Regions from separate parts of the Homo sapiens genome. Here all the other regions are linked to region 1. The links come from fine-mapping of genetic effects on gene expression. A gene starts in region 1. Each other region holds a variant in brackets. All regions are shown on one strand. Distances are between the middles of the regions.

What was found.
Region 2: its variant is fine-mapped to the expression of MRC2 in esophagus mucosa (GTEx, PIP above 0.99).
Region 3: its variant is fine-mapped to the expression of MRC2 in esophagus mucosa (GTEx, PIP above 0.99).
Region 4: its variant is fine-mapped to the expression of MRC2 in aorta (GTEx, PIP 0.95).

What each region holds. Positions count from the first base shown.
Region 1 is chr17:62,623,831-62,631,932 of GRCh38, reverse strand. MRC2 (mannose receptor C-type 2) reads right to left here and starts at 4,263. Exons shown (of 30, transcript NM_006039.5): 1 at 4,013-4,263. The coding sequence starts at 4,130. LOC107985020 (a long non-coding RNA gene) reads left to right here and starts at 3,883. Exons shown (of 2, transcript XR_001752961.3): 1 at 3,883-4,088; 2 at 4,924-5,496. RefSeq lists enhancers at 526-1,382, 5,537-6,037, 6,038-6,538 and silencers at 3,634-3,703, 3,904-4,343.
Region 2 is chr17:62,665,862-62,673,963 of GRCh38, reverse strand. MRC2 (mannose receptor C-type 2) reads right to left here. Exons shown (of 30, transcript NM_006039.5): 3 at 7,697-7,870; 4 at 7,345-7,509; 5 at 7,094-7,207; 6 at 6,431-6,574; 7 at 2,127-2,315; 8 at 1,812-1,966. Among named protein-coding and RNA genes, the nearest start is that of MARCHF10-AS1, 36 kb to the left of the region's middle. RefSeq lists enhancers at 1,349-1,418, 1,666-2,166, 2,167-2,667, 2,987-3,745, 3,746-4,505 and 1 more and a silencer at 1,362-1,656. The variant A/G (reference allele first, on the strand shown) is at 3,346.
Region 3 is chr17:62,676,821-62,684,922 of GRCh38, reverse strand. MRC2 (mannose receptor C-type 2) reads right to left here. Exons shown (of 30, transcript NM_006039.5): 12 at 7,437-7,654; 13 at 6,277-6,419; 14 at 5,021-5,123; 15 at 4,615-4,753; 16 at 4,470-4,505; 17 at 3,963-4,123; 18 at 3,794-3,861; 19 at 2,986-3,086; 20 at 2,546-2,688. It also overlaps the pseudogene RNU6-446P. Among named protein-coding and RNA genes, the nearest start is that of MARCHF10-AS1, 25 kb to the left of the region's middle. RefSeq lists an enhancer at 4,413-5,141. The variant C/G (reference allele first, on the strand shown) is at 4,301.
Region 4 is chr17:62,555,546-62,563,647 of GRCh38, reverse strand. TLK2 (tousled like kinase 2) reads right to left here. Exons shown (of 22, transcript NM_006852.6): 10 at 3,522-3,632. Among named protein-coding and RNA genes, the nearest start is that of MRC2, 68 kb to the left of the region's middle. RefSeq lists a silencer at 3,835-4,193. The variant C/T (reference allele first, on the strand shown) is at 4,183.

The DNA.
Region 1 (8,102 bases):
GGTCTCAAATAAAGAATAGGCCATGGCCATCTCTACTTCAGTTCTGCAGGAGCTCAGCAGACACCCACTGAAGGAATGAATGAATGAATGAACAACCATGTGAATCCTTGACCTCAGGGAAGCTGGAGTGCCATGCTGGGGCACCTTGAGTCACTCACTTATCAATGCCTTCTTGGAGGGGGTCCCTCAGAGATCCTGAGGACACTGCAGGCGGCTCGGTCCAGGCCTCCTGGACCCACAAGGAAGTGGCTGACCCAAGCGCCCAGACCGCTGACATGTGACAGAGGGCTGCTCGCTCCACCCTCCTCCTCAGGAGTCCTCCCGGTGGGACACATTGAGAGGTGTCCTAGAGGGCTTGGAGTTATGGGGGCGGGGAGAACACATAAGGCAGAATTTCCCAGGCTTTCCTAACACACACACACTGACAGTGCTTCATGCGATGGAAACGCTGTATGGTACTGGAGCGTTCAGGCTCCGTAACCACTCCTGGGTTCGAATCTCACTGGTAACACCTTCTAGTGGTGTGGTGGCACAGCCTTGAGTGACTCCCTTAACATCTTTAACATTTTCACGCCAGGTGTGTGCAAATCTCTGACACCTGCTCAGAGATGGGAGGTGCCGAAGAGCTACTGCCAGCACAGGACCCAGCACGGCGCCCACCACATGCACAGCGCAGCCGTGGGTGCCATCGCTCCATCCCTCTGGGGGTATGGACAGTGCAACAGGACTCCTCCTCGATGCTTAAACTGATGAGGAACTCAAATGAATATCTGCCTGAGAACTGCATGGCACTTCCGAAATCATCTCATTGAGCCAAGTCACGGTGCCCTACGTGCATCAGAAAGCCAGGATTTCTCTGGTGCGAAAAATGGGGGCCAAAACCCGGGGTTCTTCCTCCCCTCCATGTACCCTCACCTTGCCCAGGTGAACCCAGAAGAGAGCCAGGATCCCAGCACTAGCCACAGCTCGGCTGGGCACCTCCTGGGCCCTGATGACTCACAGAGAGCCAGAGGGTTGGAGCAAGGAAAACTGAGTTTTGCGTGGGGGAACAGTAAGAAGTTTCCGAACCCCACGACTCAGCAGAAGCTGGGCCAGAAGTGTAGGGAGCTGGTCTGGCTGACTCTGGTCAGAGCCCCAAGTACCCGATGCCACCCTCCCTGTCCTTTAGGCAGCACCGACCTTCCCCACAGGAAGATTTCCTGAGGTCTCCTCACCCCATGGCCTTGAGACTTGATCCCTGGAGCTCCCAGAAGCCCCTTTCCCAGCAACTATCCCCTCATTCCTCTGCTCGGAAACCTCCAAGGGTCCCCTGGGGTTCCCCACAGCCAGCTTGCAGGTCCCATCCCCATTCTGGCCTCCCAGGCACCTCTTTCACTCAACCTTCTCCCCGGCCCAGCCAGCAAGCTTCCACATCATCCCCAGAAGAGCCCAGCCTGGTGGCCCCTTCCTGCCTCTCTCCAGACAGCCTTGGCCACCCTTTGGCCCATACGGTCTCTCCTGCCTCCAATCTCCAGACGGGAAGCATCCACACTCCAGCCTTTCACTTACTAGGGGTGTGACCAATGTAAATGATCAGACCCCTCTTAGCCTTCATTTCCTGAACTGCAAAAATGGTCCAACAATAACCATCTCCTTGGGTTGTTATCAAAATGAAATGGGAACTTGCACATGAAGGGTTGAGCGTGGGTCTGGGCAGGCAGGCATCCCACCAATGGCATTCTGCCCCCTACGCAGTTCACTGTTCCACGTTTCATTCTCCCACACGATTTTCTTTTTCCAGAGGATGCATCTTACACTCTTCTCTACCTTCCCTCCTCCCCAAGAACTTGGCTCAAGGCTGAGCAAACTGCATGCTCCAGAAATGCGGTAATATGGCAACTAACAAAGAGGACTCCTTCCAGTGACAGTCTCCGCGGGCCACTCCACCAAGGTGGAGAAAAGATGGATTCCACCATCACGCACCAAGAAGGCACTGCCGCCTCGCTGCCCCTGCCCCGTGCTCTGGGCACACAGGGCTCCCCCATGGTGGTCAGGAAACTGCCCACACGCAGCCCCTGCCCTGCCTGGCATAAGCCTCGCCCCCAGCAGCACTGGCCTGCCACACCCTACCTCCCACATGCATTTCCTGGGCTATTTGGTCTCTGGTGCTGGTGAATTCCTCCCAACAACAACGTAATTCACCAGGTACTAGGGGCTGCCAGCTCTTCGGGCAAGGAATTCGGCCCAGAGGCTCTGAACAGGCTTCCCAGGGTAGGGCCCAGTGGAATTTGGCAGGGCAGGGGCAAGCGCACTCTGTGCAGAGGGCACGGTTCCGAGGGAAGGAACCTGCAGCAGCTCCATCCTCCTCCTGCTCAGCTGCTGCTGGAAGACCTCACACTGCCTGCCACCCAGATCCAAGCCTCCTCAGGGTGTGGTCAATGCAGTGCCAACGGGAAGGGGACCCTCTGAGGCTATTCATCCCTGGACACAGCCCCAGGGAGGGCCAGGCACAGAGACCAGGAGGAGGAGGGACACTCCAGGCGTCCTTGTCCTCCCTGACCGGGCCTCTCACCAGGCACTTCCAGCCCCCTCTATGAAAAGCTCCAGGGGGAAAGGCCGAGTCAGCACTCTGGCCACAACTCTCTCCCAGGGCCTGGCTTTAAAGTGTGCTCTGGAGCTCTGGGAATGGCCATCCTCCCCACCCCTTCCCACCGCCTGCCTCCTGAGGCCCTGCGCAGAGGAGCAGAGGAAGGCAGGAGTGCGAGGAGGTAGGGGAACTGCCTGTGAGGCCGCCCTGCAGTGGGTTAGGGGGTTACCCGGCCTGGTTTGTGTCTGTCCCACATTCAATGCCAGGTGGGCCCAGAATTGCCCCGGGGGTCTCCGGTTGGTGTGAATGTGGGTCACCGTGGCCCCCACCTTTCCCATCTGGCAGATATGTGTCTTGTGCCTACGTCACGCCAGGCCAACCCAGCAAGCACGGGCCAGGCTGGAGGCCCCAGACTCTCCAGGGGGCTGTCTGGTCCTTGCACAAAACTGCAGACACTGCACGGACTGTCCCCATCCCCCAATTAAACAGCCAGCAGGACCAAGCTGGGCCGGGCGATTCCCCCGGTCACTCCAGACACCCCCACCCCCACTCCCCCAGGAAGTGGATCTTTCCTTTCAACTCTTAGATTCTTGGCGAGGGATCTGTCTGTCCCCACACTTCACTGTTACCCCTGAATAAGGAGCAGGAAGAGAATGGCACAGTTTTGGGGTTTTCTGATTTTTGTTTTGTTTCCTGTTCGTTGGGTTTTAAAATCTTTAGCAGCTCTTTTGCCGCTCAAGGTCTGTCCCCTCTGGAGGGCCACTAGTGTGCCCAGAGCTGCCCACGCTACGCAACATCACAGCACGGCGGCGCCCAGCCTGTTGCTGCGTCCCAGTGGCAGGAGCCTCCTCACAGGGCTGCCGAGCTCACGCGGGGCGGATGCCGCGCGCCACAAGCCTCCTTGAAGACTAAGTGTGGAAAAGAAAATATCAACGCCCACGAGATGCAGGGGGCGGGGGGAAGGTGGGGGAAACGAACCCTCGCGGATAGTTGGAAAGCCGTCCTAACGCATCAGTCCTGGGGCAGAGCGAGGAGACTGGGCCCGGGAACTCCCGGACAGAGAGCCCTGGCTCCCCGGGCGCGCCCTGCAGGTCCCCTGCCGAGGACGGGCCGGCGCCGGGTGGTCCGGGAGCGCGGTGCGCGGGGGTCCTCAAGAGCCCACCCGCTTCCTCCTAGGCTGCTGGAGTCCCCCGGGCTCCCCTCCCCCGCCGCCCGCCACATCTGGTTCCACTCAGGTCCTCCCCCACCTCTAGGCGCGCTCCTCCTCCCCTCTCCTCCCCCGCTTTCAGAAAAGCGGAGACGAGTTTTAAAAACCCAGTCACACACACACGCACACACGCTTCTGGAGAAAAGAGGGGGGAAAAGGAGGGAAAAGTCGAGAGCGGCCCGCGCCTCGGCGCTCCCCCCGCCCGGGCCCTGAAGTTGGCCAAGTTGGCAGCGCCTTACCCGGGAGGGCGGCGTCCCCAGGGGCGCCGGGACGGCCGAGGTGCAGGCACCCGAGGAGCAGGACGCAGCGCAGCAGGTGACGAGGCCAGGGCGCGGGGGCCGGCCGGCCGGGCCCCATCCCCGAGCGCGGCGCTCAGTGGACGCGGGGACCGAGGGCGCACAGGCGCAACGCGCTGTGGCAGCCCCGAGGCTGGGCTGTGATGACCGCCCGCAAGGGGCTCGCGTCCTCCTCCGGGTCGGGACGAAGTGATGCCTCCCGGGGAGGAGGAGGGAGGAGGCAGCCCGGGCGGAGGGAGGGCGGAGGGAGGAGCGCAGAACCGGGGAGGAGGGTTCGAGGGGTAGAGGGGAAGGGAAGTGGGCAGCGTGGGAGGGGAAGGGGAGGAGGCGCGGGTCTGGGGCTAGAGCGTCGGGAGGGAGAGAAAGGGGTGGCGGAGAGGAGGACACGCCGGGTCCAGGAGGACCCCAGCGTGCGCCCTTTCTCTTGCTGCTCTGTTTCCCAGTCTCTCCCCGCCTCGCCTTCCCTCTCTTCTGTCCCGGCCAGGATCCCCAGACGCTGCGTCACAACTCCCCCGCTGGCGCGGGCGGGGAAGCAACTGCAAAACTTTCCGCAAACTTCACGGCGTGGTGGGACCTGGGCTACGAGGTCCGGCCAGCCCGGGGCGGGGGCGTGCAGCTGACCCAGGTGGCCAGACCCGGGCCGCCAGCATCCGCCCCGCCATCCCGCCTCTTTCTGCGGGCGTCTCCAGCAGCCTAGCATCCCCTACCTCCATGCCGAGGAGGACCCCTCCCCCGGTCTGGTGGGGAAGGGGCGGAGCCCAGGGCCTGGCCACCAGGGCGAAGATTGGGGGAGGGGGAGGCAGAGCCCTTGTTACGTGTGCGGAGCGCAACAATTCTTGCACGTCTTGTTTTAGCATTTTCGTGACCCCTGTGTCAGTGTTCCCGGTGCAGGAGTGTAGCACTTTTGCTTGTTGGGGCTGCATCCAGAAACCTGGGGAAAATCTGTCCACTGGACGTCTCAGAAGACCGGCATCATCACTCCCACCAACTGGACTGCTGGCCGGTAGCAAAAGACCAGCTGGAAATTTCATAAAAGGTTAGACAATCCACAGTTACTCAGTGTTACGCAACAGGTCTCTGCAGCACAGAGCACGAACTGGGGAGTCAGGATGCTGGAGTCCAGCCCTGCCTCTCTGCGGATTCCCTGCCTGACCTTGGGAAAGCCTCTTGGGGTCTCGGGGCATAGGGCAGGACTGAGACGTTGAGACCCCAAGTGCAAAGAAGACACATTTCTCCTACCACGAGTAATCAAAAACACTATGAAACTGTAATATGGGCCGGGTGCGGTGGCTCACGCCTGTAATCACACTTTCGGAGGCCGAGGAGATTGAGCCCAGGAGTTGAAGACCAGCCTGGGCAACATAGGCAGATCCCATCTCATTTTGTTAATATAAAATTTTTAAATAATAATAAAACTGTAATATAAATTGTATTGTTTCCTATCTTGTCCACCTTGGTATGTTTTTTGGAAATAAATTCAATTTTTTTCCTTTTTATTCCTCCTATCTTGGGTAAATGTTTCCCCAACTCTGCAGTGGGGGTGTTGGGTCAGAAATGCTCACTCGTCTCTTCCCATCTCTGTCAGGCTGAGGCTCTTGGTAAACAGTCCAGTGGTAATAGAGCCTCGAAGCAAGCCCCCACTGAAATCCCCTAGAGGCCCCTGGAAAGGGTCCCATTAGCCACCCTTTGGTTAGCAGCCAGACCAACAAAGCCCCTGCACTCCACGGCTAGCTTCAGCAGGTCCGACAGGGCCAGGTCCCTTCTGGTGGCTGTGGCTCCACTGCCCCTTGGGACATGTCTTCTTGGTGTGGCATGTTCTGGGATCTCAGTCCTCTGCACACAACAGGCCATGCTGGAGCTGCCTCAGAGGTCCCCCTCTTGGCCTTCCCTCTTGCACAATCCTGTAATCTCTGAAGGATTTAAGGATTTGCCGGCTAAGCTGCTCTCTCGCTCTCAGAACACAGGATACTCCTTCCCCTGAAACAGGGCTGGATTCCCCCTTCTCCAGCAGCTTGAGTAGGTTTCGGCGTTTCCTGCTGGCCTTCCCTCCTACTATCAGTGGCAGGACAGAAGCCCACCCCTTGACATCACCAGCGCAGAGCATGAGGCCAGAGAGCCCACCACTTGCCGGCACCAGGTCCCGCCATGCCGGGCACACAGGAGGTGTGCTCTCGTCTCTTCACCCACCGGCTCAACAAGCACCGACTGCTAGCCCTGTGCTAGCTGCTAGAGAAAGAGAGATGGGCAAACACAGTTGCAGCCCTAGAGGAGCCTCATTTAGTGGGGGAAAATAAACGTTTTGCCATATTCCAGGCAAAGAAGACGCAAGGGCTGAGGAGCACAAAAGTGTGCTGCTCTCGCAGGGACAGAGGTTGGTTCAAGCTTCTAAGGCCCAGTTCTAGTCTCTGTCAAGGGTGAGACTTCCTCCTCCAGCGCGAGACTTCCTCCTCCAGCGCGACATGGTTCCACACTGTGTTCCACTGACTTCTGCTGATGTCTGCAGCTGCCAACTGCTTTTGATCTTGACTTTGGGGCAGAAAGCGGGGAAACATCTGGGAGATTCTCCCTGTGGAGAATCCGGGCCGGTTCCCTACTGCATAAAGATCCTGTGCAGGCTCAGTTGTCAACAGAACATGGTCACAGTCTGTAGGAGTGTTGGGTGTTGTGAGCAGCATGGGACTTTCGAGGAACCCCTCATCAACACCCAGACCTTCATCTGCTTCCAAAGAAGGGCCAGCGTCCTCTGTGCCCACAGCCTCCTCACCATTCCTGTGCCCACAGTTGAACAGCCGTTTATTGAGGGTCAGTATGTGTCAGGCATCAGGCTAGATGCTGGAGACTTAGTGAGGTCTCTGACTTGTCCAGGGGATTTTTGCCAAGATGGTATTCGCTATCGTGGAACTGAAGCTGAGAATGGTTCTCCCCTAGACACTGACCAACTGTCAGCCAGCAACAGGTACTGAGGGTGATATGGTTTGGGATCTGTGTCCCCGCCCAAATCTCATGTCAAATTGTAATCCCCAGTGTTGGAGGTGGGCCCTGGTGGGAGGTGATTGGATCACGGGGGTGGATTTCTCATGAATGGTTTAGCACCATCCTCTTGATGCTGTTCTCATGACAGTGAGTTCTCACGAGAACTGGTCATTTAAAAGTGTGCAGCACCTCTCCACTCTCTGTCTCGCTCCTGCTCCAGCCATGTGAACTGCTGCATCCCTTCCGCCATGATTTTAAGTTTCCTGAGGCCTCCCTAGAAGCTGAGCAGATGCCAGCATCATGCTTCCTGTACAACCTGTGGAACCATGAGCAAATTAAACCTCTTTTCTTTATAATTACCCAGCCTCAGATATTTCTTTTCTTTTTTTTTTTTTTTGAGATCAAGTCTCACTCCATTGCCCAGGCTGGAGTGCAGTGGTGCAATCTTGGCTCACTGCAACCTCCACCTCCTAGGTCCAAGCGATTCTCCTGCCTCAGCCTCCTGAGTAGCTGGGATTACAGGCACGTGCCACCATGCCCAGCTAATTAGTAGAGAGGGGTTTCACCATGTTAGCCAGGCTGGTCTCAAACTCCTGACCTCAGGTGATCCACCTGCTTCAGCCTCCTAAAGTGCTGGGATTACAGGTGTGAGCCACCACACCCGGCCTGGTCTCAGGTATTTCTTTATAGCAATGAGAGAATGGTCTAATCCTGTATTAGCATCACCCCCTGTGGGTCTGCTAATTTCATCAAAACCAGTTTACGCCAGGTGTGGCGGTTCAGGTCTTGTAATCCCAGCTCTTTGGGAAGCCAAGGTGGGAGGATCACTTGAGGCCAGGAGTTAACAATCAGCCTGGGCAACATAGCAAGACCACACTTCTACAAAAATTTTTAAAATTAGCTGGGCGTGGTCATGGTGGTATGCACCTGTAGTCCTAGCTACTTGGGAGGCTAAGACAGGGGAAGTACTTGAGCCCCGGGATTTGAGACTGGAGTGAATCTATAATCACCACTGGACTCCAGCCTGAGCAACAGAGCGAGATCCTGTCTTTAATCAATC
Region 2 (8,102 bases), 42 kb before region 1:
CTTACTGTGTGATTCTGACATGTCTGTGTCCCAGCTGTGCAATGGGGAAGGCGGGATGAACCCATAAGCCTCACAGGGTGGATGAGAGCACAAGCAGTTCATGTGCAAACGCCTTGAAACTTAACAAGCATTGTCTAAATGGGAAAGGCATCCTGGCCCGGCGCGGTGGCTCATGCCTGTAATCCCAGCATTTTGGGAGGCCGAGGTGGGCGGATCACTTGAGGTCAAGAGTTCAAGACCAGCCTGGCCAACATGGTGAAACCCCATCTCTACTGAAAATACAAAAAGTTAGCCGGTTGTGGTGGTGCATGCCTGTAATCCCAGCTATTTGGGAGGCTCAGGCAGAAGAATCGCTTGAACCTGGGAGGCAGAGGTTCCAGTGAGCCAAGATCGTGCCATTGCACTCCAGCCTGGGCGACAGGGTGAAACTCCATCTCAAAAAAAAAAAAAAAAAAAGGAAAGGCGTCCTTTTACATTATTGATAACTCGTTTTATAAATATCAAAAACAAACTGGCTAAGATTGTTAGAGTAACTGATGGCAGGATAGACAGCTTGGATTCCCAAGGCGTCTAGCTAGTGCCTGCAGGGCCAGAGTGTGCAGAGGCCAGTGTGCCCAGACCAGAATCTCAGCTGATGAAGCTGAGGAGGAATTTAGTCCTCGGCCCCTGCTTCTGTCTTCGCCCTCCCCAGTATCCACAGGCCCCCAGCCAGCAGTATGTCTGTCTCTAAGCTCCATTCTGAGGGCAGGCGTGTTTGTGTATCCTAGCACCCAGAAAAATGACTGGCACATGGTAGATACTCAATACATAATTGTTTTAAAATTCTTAAATAGCATCCCCTAAGGCAAATGACTGCCACTACAGTCCACAGCACTGTTTGCAGTATGTGACAGCAGAACATCCTGTCTGTCCCTAGGAAGGGTGGTCTGTGTCCCTACGGCTTTCTCCTTTTTATTTTATTTTTTTTTTTTTGAGACAGGGTCTTGCTCTGTCACCCAGGCTGGAGTGCAGTGGTGCAATCTCAGCTCACTGCAGCCTCTGCCTTCCAGGTTCAAGCGATTCTCTTGCCTCAGCCTCTGGAGTAGCTGGGATTACAGGCATCTGCCACCACGCCTGGCTAATTTTTGTATTTTTAGTAGAGATGGGGTTTCACCATGTTGGCCAGGCTGGTCTCGAACTCCTCACCTCAAGTGATCCGCCTGCCTCAGCCTCCCAATGTGCTGGGATTATAGGCATGAGCCACCACACTCAGCTGGCTTTGTCCCTTTTTTAAGGGTCTTTCATCTCTGCTTGAAGCCCTCCATCAATTCCTTCACTTACACCACATCTAAGCCCAAACCATGGCAAATTGTCATAAAACCCAACAATCTCTTGAGATGACAGGACCCTGGACTGGGTAGAGCACTGGGGGCGAGGGCTGGCAGAGTGCAGCCCTGCTTGCAAAGTATCTGCACATAATGTGGGTTCTGATGCCACCTTCTGGCAGGGAAGGGCAGCTGGGAGGAGACCAAGAATGCGCCAGGCACTGTGCCTAAGGTTTCACGAGAATTAACTCCTCTGATCTCCCCAGTGACCCTCTAGTAACTTGCCCAAGGTGACTTGGCTACTTGGAGGTGGAGGTGGAGGTAGGATTCAAGCCCCGGCAGTCTCTCACATGGAAGGGAAGGCATTGGTGGGGAGGAGGGGGACTGCTGAGAGGTAAGAGGTTCCAGGCAGGTTCTGATAGTAACTAGGATGTCCTTCAGCTGGGGTGGCACCTGGAGGTTGGGGGTGTATTTTGTGGCCCTGTGATAGGGAGAGGGAGATCTCACCGGGCCCCAGATGGTGACACAGTCCTCCAGACTGTCCCGGAAGTTGTTGGGCTCAAAGGGGTGCCAGTGGGTGAAGCTCACAAGGCTCCCGTCAGACCACTCAAAATTCATCTGCAGTTTCAAATCGTTGAGGCCGATCCACAGCTCCTCCACCTCTGGGGGTGCAGCAGGAGAGGAGGGGAGAGAAAACATTGAGAGGTCAGCCTCAGCCACCAGTAGGGAGGAAGGAACATTCTCTGAGGCTCCTGGACAGGATGGGTGGGGCAGTGGGAGGCCCTGCCCTCCACCCAGACACGTGGGCGGGCAGCTCCTCACCTTGCTTGATCTGCTTGGTGATGAATTCCAGCTCCGCCATGCTGTGGATGCTGACCAGGTCGCCACCGCCCCGTAGACATGCCTTCTTGGACTCCTGCCAGCTGCGCTTCTCGGCCTGCAGGCGGTAGCAGTGGCCCTGGAAGGGCTGCCAGCTCGGCTCGCACTCCACCTTCACATTGGCCCACCTGTCTGCAGAGACCCATGAGGCTGCTGCTCAGGGACTGAGCCGCCCAGTCTGGGAACCAACCCACTGGGTTGACGTCAACACAGGCGAGGCCTCCCAGTCACCTCCTCTCCAAACTCTCCCAGATCAATCCCGGTCCCCACCACAGGTCTTGGAAATGCTAAAAAAACACAAAACTTTACAGGGCTGCTGGAGCCCCGGGACAGAGACCCAAGTCGTGGTGGCAGATTCCACCCAGGACAGAACACTTCCTCTGGCTGTGGCTCTCAGAATACGATGGGTGGGCCAGGCATGGTGGCTCAGGCCTGTAATCCCAGCACTTTGGAAGGCTAAGGCTGGAGGATTGCTTGAGCCCAGTAGTTCAAGAACAGACTGGGCAACAAAGGGGAGACCCCATCTCTATAAAAAATAAAAAATTAGCCAGGCATGGTGATGTGCGCCTGTGGTCCCGCTACTCAGGAGGCTGAGGTGGGAGGATCACTTGACCCGGGGAGGTCAAGGCTGCAGTGAGCCATGATTGCACCACTAAACTCCAGCCTGGGCGACACAGCAAGACCTTATCTCAATCAATGCATCAATCAATCAGTCAATAAACGATGGGTAGAAAGGACAAACCAGCCCCATGAACCTCAGTTTCTCCCTCTGTAAATGGGGTTTCCTGCTATGAGATTCAAGCTTGGCTTATGGCCCCCTGCCTAGTAAATGGAATCACTGTTATTCTCTCAAATAACATTTATTGAGCACCCACTCTGTGCAGGTCTGGGAAGCCCAGGAGGGAGAAAACTGGGAAACGGGACCTTGAGCCACTAATGGGGCCCAGGCAAGCCCACCAGGAATCTGAGGTCTTGGTGGACGGGCAACCGAGAACATTAGGAGGTGCTCAAAGTCACTACAGATCGGCCCCATCCCCCAGCTGGGACTCCTTCCCCGCTCCTAACTCCTAACCCTGAACCCCAGGGCTGAGAAATCCACCCGTCCCAGGCCCTCCCTTGCCCCGATTTCCATGCCTTTCAGGTTCACCTTCTAGGGGTTGGG[A/G]TCCGAGGGCAGCTGAGGCAAACAAGCCCTTACTTGGTCTTGGCAAGAGAAAACAGGACTTCACCAAACCACCCACAGTGTCATGCTCGGGCAGGATTCTGCCTAGTCGGGCAGGAAACTGCGCGCCCACTAGAACACGGCCTCAGACTGGGATTCCAGTGGTCCAGCCACACCTGCTCCTGGAGACCCGGCAAAGCTGGGCGGACTGAGAGCCCGGTGGGCTCGCTCTCTGGCTCAGGACCTGTCAATCATCTCTTGTTAGCCAATGAGCTAAGACCTGAGGCTGCCGCCCCAGACAAGCGGATTTTAGTGGCTGCTGAGACCCGAGGGGCCTCAAGGACCGGAAGGGAGCTTGGGAAATGTGGATGCTTTGGGGACACGACGGGGCGCCTGCCTTCGAAATGACAGGACTTAAGTGATGAGACCGGGAAAGCAGAACCTGCCTAGAATATGCCTCGTGCAGAGAGATATGGGCTGGGCAGAGGGGCGGAAATCCGAGGCCTTACATCTGTCTGCAGGTCCGGGAAGACCCAGAGGACAGAGGACTTGGTAAGGGGCCACAGATAGGCTAGGCATGCCCACACCCGGGCCTCCCAGCGGGCCCCTTCCTTCAGAAAGGTGCTTGTGGGAGGACTGGACTAGGGCCCAAGGCTCCCTCCAGCTAGAGGTGGAGGTGCCCTAGATCGGGTTGCTGACGTTTCAAGCTTCTGCTCCTGGCCCCTTACGGAATGGGAGATAAAGCAGTGGTCAGCAGTCCTGAATCAGGCCAGAGCCGTGGCTCACGCCTGTAATTCCAGCACTTTGGGAGGCCGAGGCGGGTGAATCACTTGAAGACAGGAGTTCGAGACCAGCCTGGGCAACATGGTGAAACCCCATCTCTAAAAATACAAAAAAATTAGCCGGGCGTGGTGGCACACTCATGCCTATAATCCCAGCTACTCGGGAGGCTGGAGCATGAGAATCGCTTGAACCTGGAGATGAGAATCGCTTGAACCTGGGAGGCGGAGGTTGCAGTGAGTGGAGATTGTGCCACTGCACTCCAGCCTGGGCGACAGAGCGAGACTCTGTTTCAAAAAATAAATAAATAAAAATAAAAATAAAAAGGCGGGGTGCGGTGGCTCACGCCTGTAATCCCAGCACTTTGGGAGGCCGAGGTGGGCAGATCACCTGAGGTCAGGAGTTCAAGACCAGCCTGGCCAACATGGTGAAACCCCGTCTCTACTAAAAATACAAAAGTTAGCCGGGAAGTAGTGATGCCCGCCTGTAATCCCAGCTACTCAGGAGGCTGAGGCACGAGAATCTCTTGAGCCTAGGAGGCAGAGGTTGTGGTGAGCCAAGATCGCACCACTACACTCCAGCCTGGGTGACAGAGTGAGACCCTGTCTCAAACAAACAAACAAAAAAACCAGTCCTGAGTCGATCATTGGCAAGACTTCCATGGTCAGGAGCAGAAGTTTTGCTCTGTAAACTCTTTACTGTCTGTAGTTAGTGTTGTGTGTGTGTGTGTGTGTGTGTGTGTGTGTGTGTGTGTGTTGCCATATTTTCTTTGTAAAAGTCTCCTCACCACCCCACAGCTTCGCAGGAAACTGCACAGCCCCTCCAACCTACACCACAGTAAACATCCACAGCCAACTACAGAAAAACTCCTTCGTGCCAGGCCAGATCTCCAGCCTTCCTCACAACAACCTTGCAAGGGGGGTGGCTTCATTCTCCATTTGCAATGAGGACTCTGCACCCCAGAGACTAAGCTGCTTGCCCAGGGCCACACAGCAGTAAGGGGCAGAATCCCTAAAGCAGACCCTGTCCATTGCCCCAACTCCTCCACGAGGCCCCTAAAGCTGTCTCTATGATCACAAACGAGAACCAGACACTCCCTGGCTTAAACATCTTCAAAGGCTCCCCACAGCCTACCTGGCCCCACCCAAACTTGGCCCAGCAGCCAAGACCCTGCAGAGACTGGCTGCAACCTGCCTCTTCTTCACCATGCCCTTTAAGCCAGGGCTTCCCAAACTGTGTCTGCACATGAATCATCTGAGGATCTTGTTAAATGCAGGTTCTGATTCAATTACTCTGGGGCGGGCCTGACTGTGCATTTCTAACAAGCCCTCCGGGGATGCTGTGCTGCTGGTTGGATGACCATACTTGAAGTGGTTAGAATCTATACTCCACCCAAACTGCAACAGGCACCATCCATTTTTTTCTTTTTCTTTCTTTTTTCTTTTTTTTTTTAAATTTATTTATTTATTTATTTATTTATTTTTTGAGGCAGGGTCTCGTCTCGCTCTGTTGCCCAGGTTGGAGTGCAGTGGTGCAAGCGAGGCTCACTGCAGCCTCAACCTTGCAGGCTCAAGCAATCCTCCCACCTCGACCTCCCTAGTAGACAGGCGTGCATCACCACACTCAGCTAATTTTTTAAAAATATTTTGCAGAGACAGGGTCTCGCTATGTTGCCCAGGCTGGTCTTGAACTACTGAGCTCAAGCAATCCTCCTGCCTTGGCCTCCCAAAGTGCTGGGATTATAGGTGTGAGCCACGGTGCCCGGCCATCACTCACCACCCCTTAAAGCTGCAGTGTAGTTCTAGGCCTCCACACCTTTGCATATGCTCTTCCCTCTGCCAGGAATGCCCTTCCCCCACACCTCTTTATATCTTTTAAACTTAGACTCAATTTGAAAGGCCCAAATCAAATGTTATTTCCATAAACCCCTCCTTAACTCTCAGAAGCTGAATCAGTTTCTTCTCTATGCTCCTCTAACACTGATCCATATTTCTATAATCACTCATGACCTGGGATAGTCTAACTGCATTGAGATGTCTGTCACCTCCAGCAGACTGTGGTCTCTACGAGGTAACAGTGGGTATTGCCAGCATTTAACACAGATCTCAGCACATGTTCCCCAAATGAATTAATGACATATTCCAATTTGCTCAGACTTTAACTGAACAATGAAATAAGAGTCAGAGGATCCAGAGTCCCCTTGTGCTGTGGTGGTAACCGGAGGAGAGGCTGGGCCTGCCACGGCTCTGTGGCTGTGTCCCTGGCCCTGGGAGCCCCTCCCCACCCTGCGGCACAGTCCCTGGCTCACCTGGAGGGGTGGGCTCGGCCGTGGCGTTGGGCTTCTTCTTGCACACATAGGGCAGCGCGATGCTGCAGTCACGGTTCTGCCAGCCGCCCGAGGACTCAGTGCGGATCACTCCACAGTTCTCCTCACTGGGGTTGTCCGGCTGGTCTGTGGGGAGGGCAGGGCGCCAGCACCCCCGGAGAGAGAAGCTCACACCGTGGCTCCCGGGGCCCTGCTCAGAACCTCCTACCTCCCTCTGCTCCCTCGGAAGCCTGAGCCAGTTCGGGAAGCCTGGTGCTCAGCTCCAGCTCCGCCCCAGACCACGGGGTCCTCCGCGCTTTCTAACCTGGGTGCACGTCGCCTTGAACCTTCTACCCAGTAACCAGTACCAGCCCCGCCCCGGCCTCCCCGTCCAGGCTGCTGGGTGCGCTGGTGCCCGCTGCCCACAGGGGTGGCTGAAGAGGTGAGTGGAGGCTGGCACCCAGTCCATATGCACCAAGACCTTCGGCCTGGGGCAGCGCCGCCCTACATGGGCTAGGGGGGCGCAGTCTGGGGAGGGGGGTGGAGGTCGGTGCTTCCCCTACCCACACTGCCCCTCTGCAGGAGGACATGAGGAGAGGAGTCCATGGGAGGCCAAGAGCCCGCGGGGCCCCTATGCTGCCCTGCGCCCCCAACCTTGTGCCTCACCACTCTCCCAGTTGAGGTACTTGAGGGGCGAGTTGTCCGACCACTGCCAGCCTCCGCTCGTGTCCAAGTCATTCAAGCCGATCCACAGGGTGGAGCTGTACCCAGTGAGGAGGCCTGACAGCAAGGAGGGACACTGAACAGGGGATCCCCAGCCCCAGCCTCCCCCGCTCCCCATCGCCCTCTCCCCAACCCACAAGCGGAAAGGGCCCGGGCCCTCCAGAGGCACGAGCAGGCATCAGGCCCCGGCTCACCGTTGATGTAGGTCTGCTCGTGGATCTCCGTGATGCTCAGCAGATCCGCACCCTGCTGCTCGCAGCTGGCCCAGGCCTCCCTCCACGACAGCGTGGACTGGAAGTTAAACTGGTAGCAGCTGTCAGTCAGCTGGTCCTTGTCCCAGAAGGTCTCGCAGTCGTTACCTGCCACCACGACAGCCCTCTCCTTCAGGCCCCCTCCAGGGTCCCTCGGGAGTGCAGACCCTCCCCCACCAAAAGGCTACACTAGGTAGGGGAGGGGGCAGTATCTCACCCTGGGCCCCGGGGCCCCTCAGCACCAGCCTCCCTCCAGGAACACTGCCCCCGCCCCCACGGCTCCAACAGCTCTCACTCTTGATGGGGCAGAAGCCCCAGCGCTCGTCTTTGCCGTAGTCCTGGGTGGTGGCACACCACAGGTGACCATCCTCGCGGCCCGTGCTGGTGCAGCCGTGGAACCACTGGTTGTCATATTTGAAGGGGATGGTGCACGGCTTTCCGTGGGAGTTTCCCTGGATGGTGTAGACCTCTGCAGGGGGTGGACAGGGGCCAGGCCCTTGGCATCTGGACACCAGAGGCTGCCAAGCCCCTCGACCCTCAGGAGAAATCCCCTAAAACCCAGAGTGCTGGGTGTTCACAGGGATCAGCAGGTGGGAGAGGCAATGGCACCCCATAGTGGCTTTAAGGCTTCTTCTGCTGTTGAGTCAGCCCAGGAACCAGAGAGAGGTCTTGCTGCACACCTCATAGGGCTGGGAAGGGGC
Region 3 (8,102 bases), 53 kb before region 1:
GTGATCCACCCGCCTCGGCCTCCCAAAGTGCTGGGATTACAGGCATGAGCCACAGCGCCTGGCCGTGTAATGTTCTTTTGAATATTCTGAGGAGGGCAGGAGATCCATGACACTAAGAGGCTGGCTGCCTTCCTGTGTATGACAAGGATTTGTGGATTATATTATTCAGTGTTAACTAATCTAATCTTCACAACAGGGCTAAGTGTTCTTAAAATGTCCTGCAAAGAAGCCATGGCTTGAGATTAATGCCAATTACCCTGGCACATAACAAGGAAAATGACAACCTTCTCTTCCTGGTATGAACTCGTTGTCAATCGCCAGGTAAAAACAATGAAGGACTAATCAGGTCTAATAAATCAGCCTGTGCATGGAAAAATAACGACTGTGGGGAAGAAACTCACACTATGGAGGGGGTGTTGTAAAAACGTGTTGAGAAATGCATCCATAGTGATTAATGTCAGTGCCCCAAACTTTCCTACCTGCACACTCAAAACACTTGGAAAAAGAATTTTCTAGATAGGGTCTTGCTACATTGCCCAGGCTGGTCTCGAACTCCTGGCTTCAAGTGATCCTCCCAGTGCTCAGCGTCCCAGCCTACTAGCCAATTTTTAAACAAAAATGTTTGTTTAATTGGTAGAAGGACTAAAAATGGGGAGAATTATTTAGAAATGATGGATGAACTTTTTTCACTTCAATCTATTTGTCTTTGTGAGGCATATTTAATCTATAGCCACCATGAAATGCATGTTTTGAAATAACTTTGATTTTCAACACGTTAGACCTGTGAGTCATGAGTCATAAAGTGTCAGACTAAAATTTTTTAAAAACGTGAAGTACATGTAATCACATTGCTCTTATTAAAATTATTTAGACAATTTTTTTGTTGAACAACCTTCAACTTTCATGAACTACGCAAAATATGGACCCTTCAGGAATTTGCATAGCATCCTTGTGCAGGGCCATGCTAATCTTCTCTGTATTGTTTCACTTTTTGTACATGTGCTGCCAAAGTGAGCATATTAAACAATAATTATTATAATTGATCTTTTTTTTTTTTGGAGAAAGGGTCTCACTCCATTACCCAGGGTGGTATACAGTGGCATGACCATGGCTCATTGAAGCCTCTACCTCCTGGGTTCAGGAGATCCTCCCACTTCCCACCTCCTGGGTAGCTGGAACTACAAGTGTGCACCATCACACCTGGTTAATTTTCCTATTTTTTGTAGAGACATGGTCTCTCCATGTTGTCCAGACTGGTCTCGAACTCCTGGGCTCAAGTCATCCTCCTGCCTCAGCCTCCCAAAGTGCTGGGATTACAGGTGTGAGCCACCTCTCCCAGCCAATTAATCACTTTTGAGTGAGCACAAAAAAATGTTTTCATACCACTAGTAAAAAAAAAAAAAAAAAAAAAAGGTGTTTTTTTTGTTGTTTTTTTTTTCTTTGTTTATTTTTTTGAGACGGAGTTTCGCTTTTGTTGCCCAGGCTGGAGTGCAATGGCACGATCTTGACTCACCGCAACTTCCGCCTCCAGGATTCAAGCAATTCTCCTGCCTCATCCTCCCGAGTAGCTGGGATTACAGGCATGTGCCACCACACTCAGCTAATTTTGTATTTTTAGTAGAGATGGGGTTTCTCCATGTTGGTCAGGCTGGTCTCGAACTCCTAATCTCAGGTGATTCACCCGCCTCAGCCTCCCAAAGGGCTGGGATTACAGGCATGACCCACCACGCGCAGCCAAAAAAATGTTTTAAACTTAAAAGTATTTAAAAATCTTTAGCTAATGTTTTATACTCTTTTGTTCTTATACATATTTTACTATATATAATATTAGTCATATTAGTATGGAAGTAGGTTTTATTTACACACACATATACATATATAAGTTAAATGTACACACACATAGTTTGGTCATGTAAGCTCAATATTTTGTTTTACTAATAGGAGTTCATTATCAAAATCTTTGATAATCAGGCCGGCAATCAGGCCGGGCGCGGTGGCTCACATCTGTAATCCCAGCACTTTGGGAGGCCAAGGCAGGTGATCACCTGAGTTCAGGGGTTCGAGACTAGCCTGGCCAACATGGTGAAACCCCATCTCTACTAAAAATACAAAAATTAGCCAGGGGTGGTGGCAGGTGCCTGTAATCCCAGCTACTCGGGAGGCTGAGGCAAGAGAATTGGTTGAACCCAGGAAGCAGAGGTTGCAGTGAGCCGAGATCGCGCCACTGCACTCCAGCCTGGGTGACAAGAGTGAAACTCCTTCTCAAAAAAAAAAAAAAAAAATCTTTGGCAATCACTGATCTAGAACACTCACCAAATTATTTGGACAACCTTGCTTCCCGGAGGATTGGAAGGTGCTACTACAGTGAGTCATTTTCCAAGGAGTCTGGCCCTGGTACTGGAGCCAGGTGAAAGAGAAGTTGGTGGGTACAGGCAAGAGGCCATGAGTTTGGTGCTGCCAAAAGGCCAGGACTCCTGAGGCTCAGCCTTTCCCTGTTCACGTCCTCTCCCCTGACTCCCTTGGGTGCCCCATTGCCACCTCCTACCTTGTTGAGGAACTGGATCCAGTCAGAGGGGCAGCCCCCCAGGGCTGTAGTTGGCAGGTCTGGGGGCTGCGTTTCTTTGGTGACGTTGCTGCGCTTGCAGATGTAGGGCAAGGCTGTCAGGCACCTCTGGTCCCCCCAGTCCTCTGCGGAAAGGGGAGGGGAGGGCAGTCACCCCCAGGGCAGAGCAGGGCAGGGCATGGCTGGCAGCACACTCAGCCTCATGCCCTGAGAGGAGTCTGGGCAGAGGCTCAGGGCCTGTGTCCAGCTCCGAATTCAAGTCTTCTGGACCATGGAGACAGGTCCACCCCTCGCTGAGTCTAGCCTTTATTGGGTTGTGGGAACAAAGAGAATGAGAACAGACTGATGACTTCTGCCCAGGCTCGCCCAGCATTAACCCTTTGCACAGCTGACTGCGCACTCTGCCCCCACCTTGCCCTCACCTCGGCTGGCTGTCATGTACACGCACTTCTTGTCCTTGCCGACAGGCCGAGGTTTGCCTGGTGCCCAGGAGATGAAGTTTATAATGGAACCATCTGTCCATCTGCAATGGCATGGAGCAGAGGTAACTCCAGCACCGGCCCCCAGCTGGGCCTCCACCGGATGCAGCAATGAAGGCCGCAGGAATGGGGGCAGGGAAGGGCCCAGGTTCTGGGGTTTAGTGGCTGTAGGCTGAGGGGTGGAGCTACTGAGCTCAGGGCAGTCAAAGACCCAAGGACCTGGTGCCTCTAGATAAGGCCCCAGCTGTCCCTGGACACTTGCTGCTCCAGAAAAGAAGCCTGAGGACTCCAGGGCAGGAAGCCCAAGGGCAAAAAGACAAGCTCAAATTCTGAGTCCCAGGTGCTCCTGGTCCTTCCTGCCTCAAGCCCCCCAGTACATGGTAAGTAGGCACCAAATACAAAGAGGCCCCCGGATCATCATATGTTCTGCCCACTTCCCCGAGAGGGCCTTAGTCATGATGAATGACACCAGACGTAACAGGAGCTGCCATTATTTAGTAACTAATGTGCTGGATGCTGCGTAAGCACTTCGCATATGTTATTTCTAATCTTCACAAAAATCTTACCAGGCAGGCCTCATATTCCCATTTTCAGATGAGAAAACCAAGGCCCAGAAAGGTTAAGTATCTTGCTCAAGGCCACACAGCCAGCAAGGAAGGGGCAGGGCTGGATTCAAATGCAAGTCTGCCTCTGTGCTCCGTGTGTGGACAGCCAGCCCCCTTCCACATCTGCTGCCTGCCTGGGTTCCTACCTGAAGCGCCCATCGCTCTCAGAGGTGTGCAGGCCGATCCACCAGTGCTGCTCCTGGGCCCGGGAGAACTGGAGAAGCCAGGCGGGCAGGTGTGGGTAGGCAGCCCCCTGCCCTCATCCCGGGCCTGCCCTCCCCCAGCCTGCAGCCCCCTGCTCAATCCAATGCCCACCTTCTGCAAGTTGTGGCTCAGGAAGTCTAGCTCCGCCTGGCTGTGCACCGAGGTCAGCTCGGCCTGGAACCACGTGCAGATGCGCTGCGCCTGCGCCCACGTGGAGTGGTGCTCAAAGAACTTGTACTCGGCCTCCTGGAAGCGCAGCCATTCCCGTCGGCCTGCAGGAGCAGCGCGGGCGTGGGAGCGGCGGCCAGGCAGAGGCTGCACGCCAGGCCCCGGAGGCGGGCGCGGCAGGGCCGGGGCAGAGCCAGGCGGCAGCAGGCGAGCCTGCAGGCACACCGGACCCAGGCAGGCACCGTGCCAGGCCCCAGGCCCCAGGCTTGCCTCGCCTCCCA[C/G]ACGGAAGCAAACAGGGCTGTGGCTGCCTCCGTCCGAGCCAACCCCGTCCCCCTTCTCTCGACCGGAACTCCTCATCCCCTCCATTTCATTCAGGCCTCTCGGGACTTACCCCAGAGTTGACGCCCTCTCCCACGCGATGGGTAGCGGGATGGGCTGGGGGGTGCTCACCTTGAGGGCTGTCGTCGGGCTCCCGCACGTCCGTACCTAGGGGAACAAGGACAAAGACGTTGTGAGGAAAGGAGACCCTCCCTGGAATTCCTGGCCCCGCCACCCTTCGCTCCATCCCGCGTCCCCCAGCGCCACTCCGGCCAACCTCTGGGGATCTTGCAGATCCAGTCCAGCTGTGTGTCGCACTGCATGGCCACCCACTGCAGGGAGGCCAGGTCCAGCACCGCACAGCCTCGGATGTCGTCGTCGTCGTGCCGGCTCCGGTCGAAATTGTGGTAAGAGAACTGGAGGAGGCGGGTGGAGGGAAGAGGAACGTGAGGCGCAAGGTGCAGGCCGCCCCCATGCCCGGAACAGGTGAACAAGAGGCCTGGCCTGAGCTGCGAATTCTCACCGGGGGCCGGGTGACCCCTCTCGGACCTGCTTTCCTGAAGCCGGCTCCGACTGGGGGCCCGGCCCTCAAGAAAACCCGCCCACCTCCAGGCCCCGCCCCAAACAGGCCCCGCCCACCAAGCTCCCGGCCTCGCAGTCCCAAGTACCCCAGGCCCCCTCACCCCTACGCCGTCGCTCCAGCGCCAACTCTGACCCCCTCTGGGATCCCGACGGTTCAGGCCGATCCAGAACCAGTGCTGCTCGTGGATCTCGGGTTCTGATTCACTTCAGCACAACCCAGGAGTGGGGACGGAAGAGATGGGAAGTGAGAGGGGCAGGAACCCAAACGTGCCCCCTGTCCCTTGCAGCTGTGACCGGGGCAGCCCCCAGGGCCTGGGGCCTCTCCATCTGGGCTTCACATTGACCCATCGATACAGCGTTGAGGTCACTTCGGTAAAGTTCTCCCCACAAGACAGAGCTGGGGAGAGCTGGACCAAGCCATCCACTCAAGGGGCAGTGGCCCCTCCCCTTTGTTTGGGTTCCTTTTGGGTGGGGGTGCCCTGTCCAGCAAGATTCTGCAGGCTTTTACTTTACGGAGTTTAGGAAGTTCAGATGAGGAGGTGGCAGGGATCTACGGCTCTGGAGTTAAATAAACCTGGATTCAAGTATCCGTTCACCCATGAACTTGGGCAAATAACCTCTCTATCAACCCACAAGGGTCAGGGGTTAACGTCTGCTCCATAGGGTTGTCGGGAGGCTTGAGTGAGGACTATATGTTTAGCACAGTGCCTGGTACGTGGTGAGAAGTGATGACCATGAGCTATTGTAATTATGAGACAAATAATGTAATTTCAATGTTTGCTGAGAGGAGAGATCCCTTCAATTAAGCTATCAGGAAGCCCAGATCCATCTCGATTTTCCCAGTGCTAGGGGATTCCACGTGCTAATGCTCAGAGCCCAGGACAGAGGTGGTGTCTCAGAGGGAGGCCCATGGGCAAATCCTCATAGCTGCGGCCTTTCTCCTCCTATCTCTCAGGAAAAACTGTGGATTGAGGAGTGTGGGTCATTGTAGGATGGTGTAAGGTGAGGGGAAACACTTGCCAGGACCAGCATGTGGGAGATTTTGCAATGGGGTGGGGGGTACATATGTAAGTTTGTGGGTCTGTTGGAGCATTGCTGGGGGGATGATGGTGAGCAAAACACAGTCTCCTATGAGTGCATGGATCACACCAGCCTGTTCTCCCAAGATGCCAGGGCACCATGGCTACTTGAGTGAGGACAAGATGGTCCTGGCACCAGCAGCAGATGCAGGCCTCCCTGGGGTCACCCACATTCTGCCATCCCCCTGCTCGCCCAACAAAACCAAGGGTCTGTCGGCCATGCCTGCTCCTACACGTGTGCGGGTGCCCTCCTAACACGCCTCAGCCCGGCTCAGTACCCGAAGATCTTGTTGAGCATGTTGGCCACAAAGTGCTCCTCCTCGTAGCTGGCCAGGCTCAGCAGCTGGGCCCCCAGCTCCTGGCAGGCCCCCTGGGCCTGGACCCAGCTCTTCTTGTCCTGCAGCCGCTCTGAGCTGAACACCTGCAGGGGCAGAGTCCAGCTGTCTAAGCTGTCCCCACTGGCCCACCCCTCAGGGGGCACCTACTGCCTTTCCCACCATGGCAGAGGAGGGGCCTGGAGCCTTACTGGACAGGGGGCTAAGGCTAGCTAAGGACAATCCTGTTCATCTGCAGAGGTCTGGGGAGGGGAGCTGGCACAGTCACCTTCTGGAGAGGGCCCCTGAGCCCCATCCCCTGACCAGCAGGGAGATCTGGGCTCTAATCCCAGCAGAGCCACAGCTTAACGTGGGTAAGTCCCTTCTTCTCCCTAGACTTCAGTTTCTGTGCATAATAAAAGACCTCGGACTCTGCCAGTGGCTCCCAAACCTAGCGTGATTAAAAATACAGATTACCAGGCCCAATCCAGACCTAATGAATCTAAATCTCCATTGTGACAGCCTAGATTTTTATCTTTATTTATTTATTTATTTATTTTTGAGACGGAGTCTCGCTCTGTCACCCAGGCTGGCGTGCAGTGGCACGATCTCGGCTCACTGCAAGCTCCGCCTCCTGGGTTCATGCCATTCTCCTGCCTCAGCCTCCCGAGTAGCTGGGACAACAGGCGCCTGCCACCACACCTGGCTAATTTTTTGTATTTTAGTAGAGATGGGGTTTCACCATGTTAGCCAGGATGGTCTCGATCTCCTGACCTCGTGATCCACCCGCCTTGACCTCCCAAAGTGCTGGGATTACAGGTGTGAGCCACTGCGCCCGGCCAAGATTTTATTTTTATCAGGTTCCCCAAGCAATTCTGAAGAACAGCTAGGCTGGCCCCAACATTTGGGAACCTCTGAAATCAATGATCTGTGGTTCCCTCAATTCCTCAAATGATTACTGAGCACCAGGCCTCCAGATTCCATGGACAAGTCTCACCAGAAATCACCCGTCTGCAGCCTGGTGTGTCTCTGGATTGTGGCTGGTCCCACTGGGACCTCCATCCAAACTGTCTCTTTGCTCCTGTCCTCCCCCTGCCCCCTACCCGGCCAACAGGCTGCCCTACCTTATAGCAATACCGGAGTTTGGTGTCCGAGGCCCAGCCCTGGGGACAGGAGCCAGTGAGGCTGGGCGTGGGATCTGGCCCCGGCAGCTCCGGCGTCACTGGAGTGCCCAGGCTCTGCCGGCAGATGTAGCGGGCCCGGAACGAGGTACAGTTCTTCACCTCCCACAGCCCCATGGCGCTGCCAGTGGCCAGCGCCACGCAGCCCCCACGGCTGTACCCTGAAGGAGAGGGAAGGGAGACCCAGGCTCTGAGAAGGATTCATAGTCTGGTCCTCCCTCACATCCCGGCAGGGCACTAGCACGGCCCTCACACTGGGAACCAGCTTGGCCACCTCTTCAGAGACATGCTCTCTGGGGTTGGAGCCAGGAGGGAGGAAGGGAATGGAGGCAGAGCCCTGGCTCTGGGTTCACCCACTGTGAGGGCTCAGGCAAGCTGCTTAACCTCACCGAGCCTGCTTCATCATCTACCTCATCAGGTTATTGAAGGGGTTAGAAAGATAATGAATGTGAAATGGTAATAATAGTAATAACAAGCACTTGTATTGCGCTCAGTATTCTGAACACATTTTTTAAATGAGTCCAGATAGAGAAGAGATTATTTGTTTCTTTTTTGTGAGCCCAGATAGAGAAGTAATCTAGACACTTTACACACATTAACTCTTTACAC
Region 4 (8,102 bases), 68 kb after region 1:
CAAAGGAAAAGAATAAAGTACTGTGAGAGATGATACCATGGGATAAAAGTCCTTGAGATGTCCTGTCTATTTCAACCAACAGGCAATTTATAGCTGCAGTTTTCCATGCCCAGAACACATTTTTCCTCTTCTTTATAGCTTTCTCCAATTAGTCCCCTGCCCTTGATTTATTTTAGTGAATTTATTTTCTTTTTTTTTATTTTAAGAGACAGGGTCTCACTCTGTTGCCCAGGCTGGAGTGCAGCAGTGCAATCACAGCTTACTACAGCCTCCAACTCCTGGCTCCAATGATCCTCCCACCTCAGCCTCCTGAGTAGCTAGGACTACAGGTGTGTGCCACCACACCCAGCTAATTTTAGTGAATTCTTAATATGTGCACTGCTCATCTGAATAGGTTTCCTTATATATGTGAATGTGTCTTATTCGCCCACCCTCATGTAGACTGTTAACCCTCTGATGGCAGGAACTGTGTCTTTTGTTTCTTAGATTCATGCAAGCTGTTCTATTATGAGAAATTCATTCTTTTTTTATTACTGAGTAGTATTCCACTGTATGACAATATAATAATTTGTATCTACATTCACTTGTTAACAGACACCTAGGATGTTTCCACTTTTTGGCTATGAATAAAATTCCCATGAATATTCTCATACAAGTACTTTTATGGACATTTACTTTCTTCTGTTTTTAAAAATAAAGATGGTCTTGCTGTGCTGCCCAGGCTAGTCTCAAACTCCTGGGTTCAAGTGATCCTCCTCCCTGAGCCTCCCAAAGTGCTGGGATTATAGGTGTGAGTCACCATGCCCGGCCAACATTTGCTTTTGTTTGTCTTGGGTAAATGCCAGGAGAGGAACTGCTGGATCACAGGATTTAGTACATATTTATCTCAAATAGAAAAACTGTCCAAAAACCTTCTGAAGTAGCTGTAATATTTTACATTTCTATTGGTGTAACAAATCAGGCTGCCCCTCATCTTCACCAACCCTTGGATCTGTCAGGTTTTTTTTATTTCTAGTCATTCTACTGGGTTTGTAGTACTATCTCACGCTGGTTTTACCTTGAGTTTTCCTGATGGATAATGACATTAAACATCTTTTCATGCTTGCCATTTGCGTATTTTTATACACTCTTTTTTTGTAAACTATCTGTTCAAGTCTCTTGCTCATTATTAATGAGTTGTCTTTTTATGATTAAGTTATAAGAGTTTTAAAATTTTTAAAGTATTCAAATTCTATGAAAGATAACATTGCACTCTATGATTGCATTTTCATTTGTGTGTTTTTTGTTTTGAGACAGTCTCATTCTACTACCTAGGCTGGAGTGAAATGGCATGATCTCAGGCTCACTGCAATCTCCGCCTCCCAGGTTCAAGTGATTCTCGTGCCTCAGCCTCCAGAGTAGCTAAGATTACAGGCGCACACCCCCACACTCAGCCAATTTTTGTATTTTTAGTAGAGATGGGGTTTCACCATGTTGGCCAGGCTGATCTCGAACTCTTGACCTCAAGTGATCCACCCTCATTGGCCTCCCAAAGTGCTGGGATTACAGGCGTGAGCCACCACACCCAGTCCATTTATGCTGCTTTATATTGCATCACGGTGTAGCAGATACTCAATAAATACTCCCTATTTAGAAAGTCAGTAAGTAGATACTACAATTTCAGTTCTTTTGGAAACAAATTTAAATTTTGTTATATACTACTCCTAGCAAAGAGAAAGTTGTTTTCCTGTGAGAACTCAGAGACAGCATTATGTTTACTTTTTGTAGTATGCTATTTAGAGTTTAGAACAACTGGCTGAATCTCTGCTGATTTCAGGAAGTATTCTAAAACTTCAAAGAAATTATCTGGATTAGCATATATTTTATTTTTTCTCACTCTCAGAAAAAATTTTAAAAAGTGGTTTCTTTTCTATAAAGTTGATTAATGAGTCAAAGAATGAAACAAAATTTCCCCCAGTATCTTCGGCCTCAATAAAATAATTCATTTCACTTTTACTGAAAGACAGTGTTTCCTGTCTTTTTAACAACATTCCAAACATTTCAGGAAAATAAATCTCCAGTATATCTCAAACCTCTAGTTTGTTCTTGTAATATTGTCATTAGGAAGTACTGTCTTCTTAAAACTTCTAAGAAATAGGCTGGGCGCAGTGGTGAGCGCCTGTAATCCCAGCACTTTGGGAGGCCGAGACGGGTGGATCACTTGAGGTCAGAAGTTCAAGCCCAGCCTGGCCAACATGGCGAAACCCCGCAATTCCTCAGGGATCTTGAACTAGAAATACCATTTGACCTAGCAATCCCATTACTGGGTATATACCCAAAGGATTATAAATCATGCTGCTATAAAGACACATGCACATGTATGTTTATTGTGGCACTATTCACAATAGCAAAGACTTGGAACCAATCCAAATGTCCAACAATGATAGACTGGATTAAGAAAATGTGGCACATATATACCATGGAATACTATGCAGCCATAAAAAATGATGAGTTCATGTCCTTTGTAGGGACATGGATGAAGCTGGAAACCATCATTCTCAGCAAACTATCGCAAGGACAAAAAAACCAAACACTGCATGTTCTCACTCATAGGTGGGAATTGAACAATGAGAACACATGGACACAGGAAGGGGAACATCACACACCGGGGCCTGTTGTGGGTTGTGGGGAGTGGGGAGGCACAGCATTAGGAGATACACCTAACGTTAAATGACGAGTTGATGGATGCAGCACATCAATATGGCACATGTATACATATGTAACTAACCTGCATGTTGTGCACATATACCCTAAAACTTAAAGTATAATTAAAAAAAAAATACAAAAATTGGCCGGGCATGGTGGCGCACGCCTATAAACCCAGCTACTCAGGAGGCTGAGGCAGGAGAATTGCTTGAATCTGGGAGGCGAAGGCTACAGTGTGCTGAGATCATGCCACTGCACTCCAGCCTGGATGAGACTCAGCCTCAAAAAAAAAAAAAAAAAATTCTAATAGTTACTAATACCTATTAACAGAGATAAGTGATAATTAACCAATGAATATAATAAAGAGGACATCAGCCAATTAAGTAATCATATGCAGGTATATGACAACTTTAATTTTTTAATGCACAAAGCATTAATTATCACATTATTATATACATAAGTTATTCTAAATGCCATCTCTGAAACAAAAATGCAACTATTGTTAATGATTCTAATAGTAATAGGATACTCACTTCAATTGATAGAATGAATATAAGAATATAGGAGAGCAATACCCCAAATAAACTCAACTAGGACAAGCTGTCTCTGTTCAATATCACACTCAAAGCAATGCACAGCAACAAAGCATATCCCAAATTAACACTCTGGATGGTTGGTCTGGTGTCCATGTAAGGAAAAAATTCTAATTGTCAAATCATGTTCCTAAAAAGCTCTACTTTTAAATATTTTCATCTCAAGTAAGGAATAAGAAGCCACACAATGACACACATTGAGTATCTTGGGATACAGAGTTTAGACCAACATTATTCACTAACCTTTTCTATAAGGAGTTTCTTGCTCATTGTCACACATCTATTTAATCGTTCCTTGTATTTCTCTAGCATCTTTTGCTGTTCATCAATCTGCCGTCTCAAATCACAGTTGGCCTTCAATGAGAAAAAAATTTTTAATTAGCTCCAAGGAAGAAGATTAATGGAAAAGCAGTTTCTAGGGAGAGAAAAAAAAATCATTTCTATATGTTGTTTTATCAAAAGCAAAATTAAAGTTCAAACAGGTAAGAAGTAACTATGTCTTAGAAAAAGTAAATAATTCATTCCTTTATTCTCTCATAACATATCATCTATTTGTAAATGATAAATTGAATTACTAATTTGGGCATGTTTTTCTACTGATCATATTTTGCTCCTGCCAATAACCAGTTACAGCTACTCTTGTAATCACAAACACCTAAGCTATCACAAAATAATAATTAAAAAAATGTTAAAGCTGGGAATCGTGGCTCATGCGTGCAATCCTAGCACTTTGGGAGGCCGAGGCAGGCAGATGACTTGAGGTCAGGAGTTCAAGACCAGCCTGGCCTGCGTGGTCAAACCCCATCTCTACTAAATATAAAAAAATTAGCCACACATGGTTGCGGGAGCCTGTAATTCCAGCTACTCGGGAGGCTGAGGCGGGAGAATCGCTTGAACTCAAAGG[C/T]GAAGACTGCAGTGAGCCAAGATCACGCCACTGCACTCCAGCCTAGGTGACAGAGTAAGACTTCATCTCAAAAAAAAAAATAAAAAATAAAAAAAAAATAAACTACAATGAATGTTTAAAATACAAAGAGTGATTAAGCACATACAAAAAAATTACTGAATTTTATGTTTGCTTTGTTCTTTTTCTAGTCGCATTTAAGAAAGATAAATTTGCATAAATGTTCCTCACCAGAGAAGCCAGGCACGCCCATGCCCACAAAAGACAGAACAAACAAACAACGTCCTGGTTCAAGAATGCCAGAATGTAAATATACAGCTAATTTAGCTGTGGTCAGAAGCCTACAGTGTGGACTAAAAACTTAAAGCCTCCTGCAATAACAGAGAAGGAAAGAACCACTAACCCAAGGACGAATTTGACTTGCAAGTCCTGAATTTATTCCTTTTGTGTTAAAAAAAAGATCTCAGCTCTTCTAGCAAATAATGTTACCTCATAAAAACTCACTTAAATTATGAAAAAGAAAAACCTGTTATGTGTTCCTAAAATACTAAAAGGCACAAACAGAAGATATCACACGATACTCAATTTTTGAGACCTTGTAGCTTCATTAAAAATTTTTATCATTTTTTCTTTTGTATAATATAGCATCATTTTTAAAGTAACCCATGAGAAACAGCTTCTGTCTCCAAATGTTTCTCCTCTCCCCATCAGCATAATTTCTTCCTGTTAGTTTTTGTACAGAACCATATTATCAAAGACAGAGTGTAACTACATTTGGGTAAGTGTGATTACCAAATTCATAGTAAAGAATCTACGAAGCAAAGATCATTTAATGTATATGGAAAACCCAGTCTACTCATAAGGTGAGTGTTCCCTTGAAATCTATAATCAAATGTATGAAATCCATCAACCTCTTGGCAGTTATTTAAAATTTTAATAATTCTAAGTTTTTGTGGCTTCTGACACTAATGTCTTCGAGGAGTTCATGTTTAAAGTAACAGCTGGCAGCTGGTGAGCGTGGCTCATGCCTATAATCCCAGCACTCTGGGAGGCCGAGGCAGGAGCATCAATTAAGCCCAGGAGTTCAAGACCAGCCTCGGCAACATGGCAAAACCTTAGTCTCTATAAAATTTTGAAAATTAGCCATGTGTGGTGGCATGCGCCTCTGATGCCAGCTGTTCGGGAGGCTGAGGATTGCTTGAGCCTGGGAGGTCGAGGCTGCAGTGAGCTGTGATTGCACCACAGCACTCCAGCCTGGGAGACAGAGCAAGACACTGTGTCCTTTTTTTTTAATTAAAAAAAAGAAAAAAAAAAAGCAGCTGGCTAGTAGCTCCCAATGCAGCCATACCCAACATCTTATTAAAATGGCAAAATTCAATGAATGACGTCTGAAAGAATATACAAGACATGTAGTCTTTCCCTCACTGTCGATCCTCTAGATCTTCTAGAAGCACAAGTTCTAATCAACCTAAAAACAAGGCAGCTGCCCTCTGTGTCTTCCTTTTTTATTTATCTACTCCTTTAGTACTGCTCTACATACAAATAAAGACTGCAACAGTCTGAAGACGACGGAGTAGAAGGGACAGTAGTGAGTGAAGGAAACATATTGCTTATTAGAAAACATAAGCAAACATTTTTTTGAAACTCCTAAAGCAGTACCAAGTTAGGATTCAAGTTTTTCTCATACTCTGTCATCTCAATCTTAAAGAGTCAGATGATGGAGAAAGGCACGCCCACAATTCTTCCTCAGTACAGCAGAGCTTCTCTGTACAAAACCCTGACAGATACTGGAATTTGGCAAGGAGCTTTTTACACCCACAAACCATTTCATTATAAATCTTCGATGGCAATTCAACCAGCACCCAGATGAATAAAAACAGGAATAAGAGCAACTCCATGCAAGTATACATATCCGAACAATGAAAAATACAACACAGTGCTGAGACTACATATGGGTCTCCTCATTCAAAGATGGAGGAAAGGAAATAAAAATAACAATAGTAAATAAAAACAACAACAAAAATAGGCCCAAGGAATACAGAAAATCAGCTTGAAAACAATGAAAATGATCACCCATAGAAATCAAAAGAACATTTTAGAATACTTCTTGTCATATTTCATAAAATGCAAAAAGACGTGATATCTAGGAAATAGGAACCAAAAACCCTAGAGAATATACAAGATGGGGTAAGAAAGTATATTAGATGAGGGAAAAAAGCAGGGAAATTTAAAATGTAAATAATAGGCCTGGCACGGTGGCTCACGTCTGTTATCCCAGCACTTTGGGAGGCCAAGGTAGGAGGTTTGCTTGAGCCCAAGAGTTCAAGACCAGCCTGGACAACATAATGAGACCCTGTTCCTACAAAAAATAAAAAAATTAGCCAAGCACAGTGGCACATGCCTGTAGTCCCAGCTATTCAGGAGGCTGAAGTGAGAGGACTGCTTGAGCCTGGGAGATGAAGGCTGCAGTGAGCCATGACGGTGCCACTGCACCCAGCCTGGGCAACAGCAAGACACTGTCTCAAAAAATAAAAATGTAAACAATAAAATCAAAATTCACACGAGCTGCAGTAAATGCCAGAAATATATGGAAGACAGTGTTTAATGAGATTCAGAAGAAAGGGGCAATCATATTAAAATAAGACATAACATGTGAGAAATAAAGGAGAGAAATCAGAGATTCAAGCTAAGAGTCAAGAAGAAACCAATATAAAGAGGGATAAAAGCATAGTTAGACATAATCACACATTTTCCAAATAAAAATATATAAACCCACATATAGAGACACCCTGGGGTAATATTTAACAAATTATGGTGTTTGCTGCTTTGGTCATGAACCTCTCTGAAATACGAAATGCTTGAAAAACTGAAGGAGAAACAGAGAGAGAGAATGCGTGTTATATTTGAGAGGCAGAACGAATAGAACAAGGGGTTATGACACAAAAATCCTGCACACAGTGTTGTCTTTCCACGGGAGGGCAAAAGAGAGAATTCTCAGGTCGGTAAGGCAGAGAAAATTTAACACTGACAAATCCTTGCTGAAAAATAATCACTTAAAAATGTACCACCATCAACAGATAAAACAAAAACTATAAATAAAAAAAATACTGCTGATAAGTTTTGAAATCAGTTGAATAAACAAGTCTAACAATGACTACAAATTTGGTCATAAAGCTGCCTCTGCCTATACTCTATACATAAGAACTTAGTATCATATATAGCAGTAAGAATGGTAATTTAACAATAATAATATAGGCCGAGCGCAGTGACTCACGCCTGTAATCCCAGCACTTTGGCAGACCAAGGCAGGCTGATCACTGCAGGTCAGGAGTTCGAGACCAGTGTGGCCAATGTGGCAAAAACCCATCTCTATTAAAAATACAAAAATTAGCCAGGCATTGTGGGGCATGCCTGTAATCCCAGCTACTTGGGAGGCAGAGGCAGGAGAATCACTTGAACCTGGGTGACAAAGTGAGACTCTGTCTCAAAAAATTAATAATTAATTAATAATATAAACAGCCAAATGTAGTGGCACATGCCTATAGTCCCAACTACTTGGGAGGCCAAGGTGGGAGGATCACATCAGGCGGGGACTGGGGAGCGCACAGCTTGCAAGACTGCGCCACTGCACTCCAGCCTGGGTGACAGAGTGAGATCCTGTCTCAAAATAAATATATAAAATTAATAATAATAGCCGGGCGCGGTGGCTCACGCCTGTAATCCCAGCACTTTGGGAGGCCGAGGTGGGTGGATCACAAGGTCAGGGGTTCGAGACCAGCCTGACCAACATGGTGAAACCCCGTCTCTACTATACAAAAATTAGCTGGGCGTGGTGGCGGGCGCCTGTAATCCCAGCTACTCAGGAGGCTGAGGTAGGAGAATTGCTTGACCCCAGGAGGCGGAGGTTGCAGTGAGCTGAGATC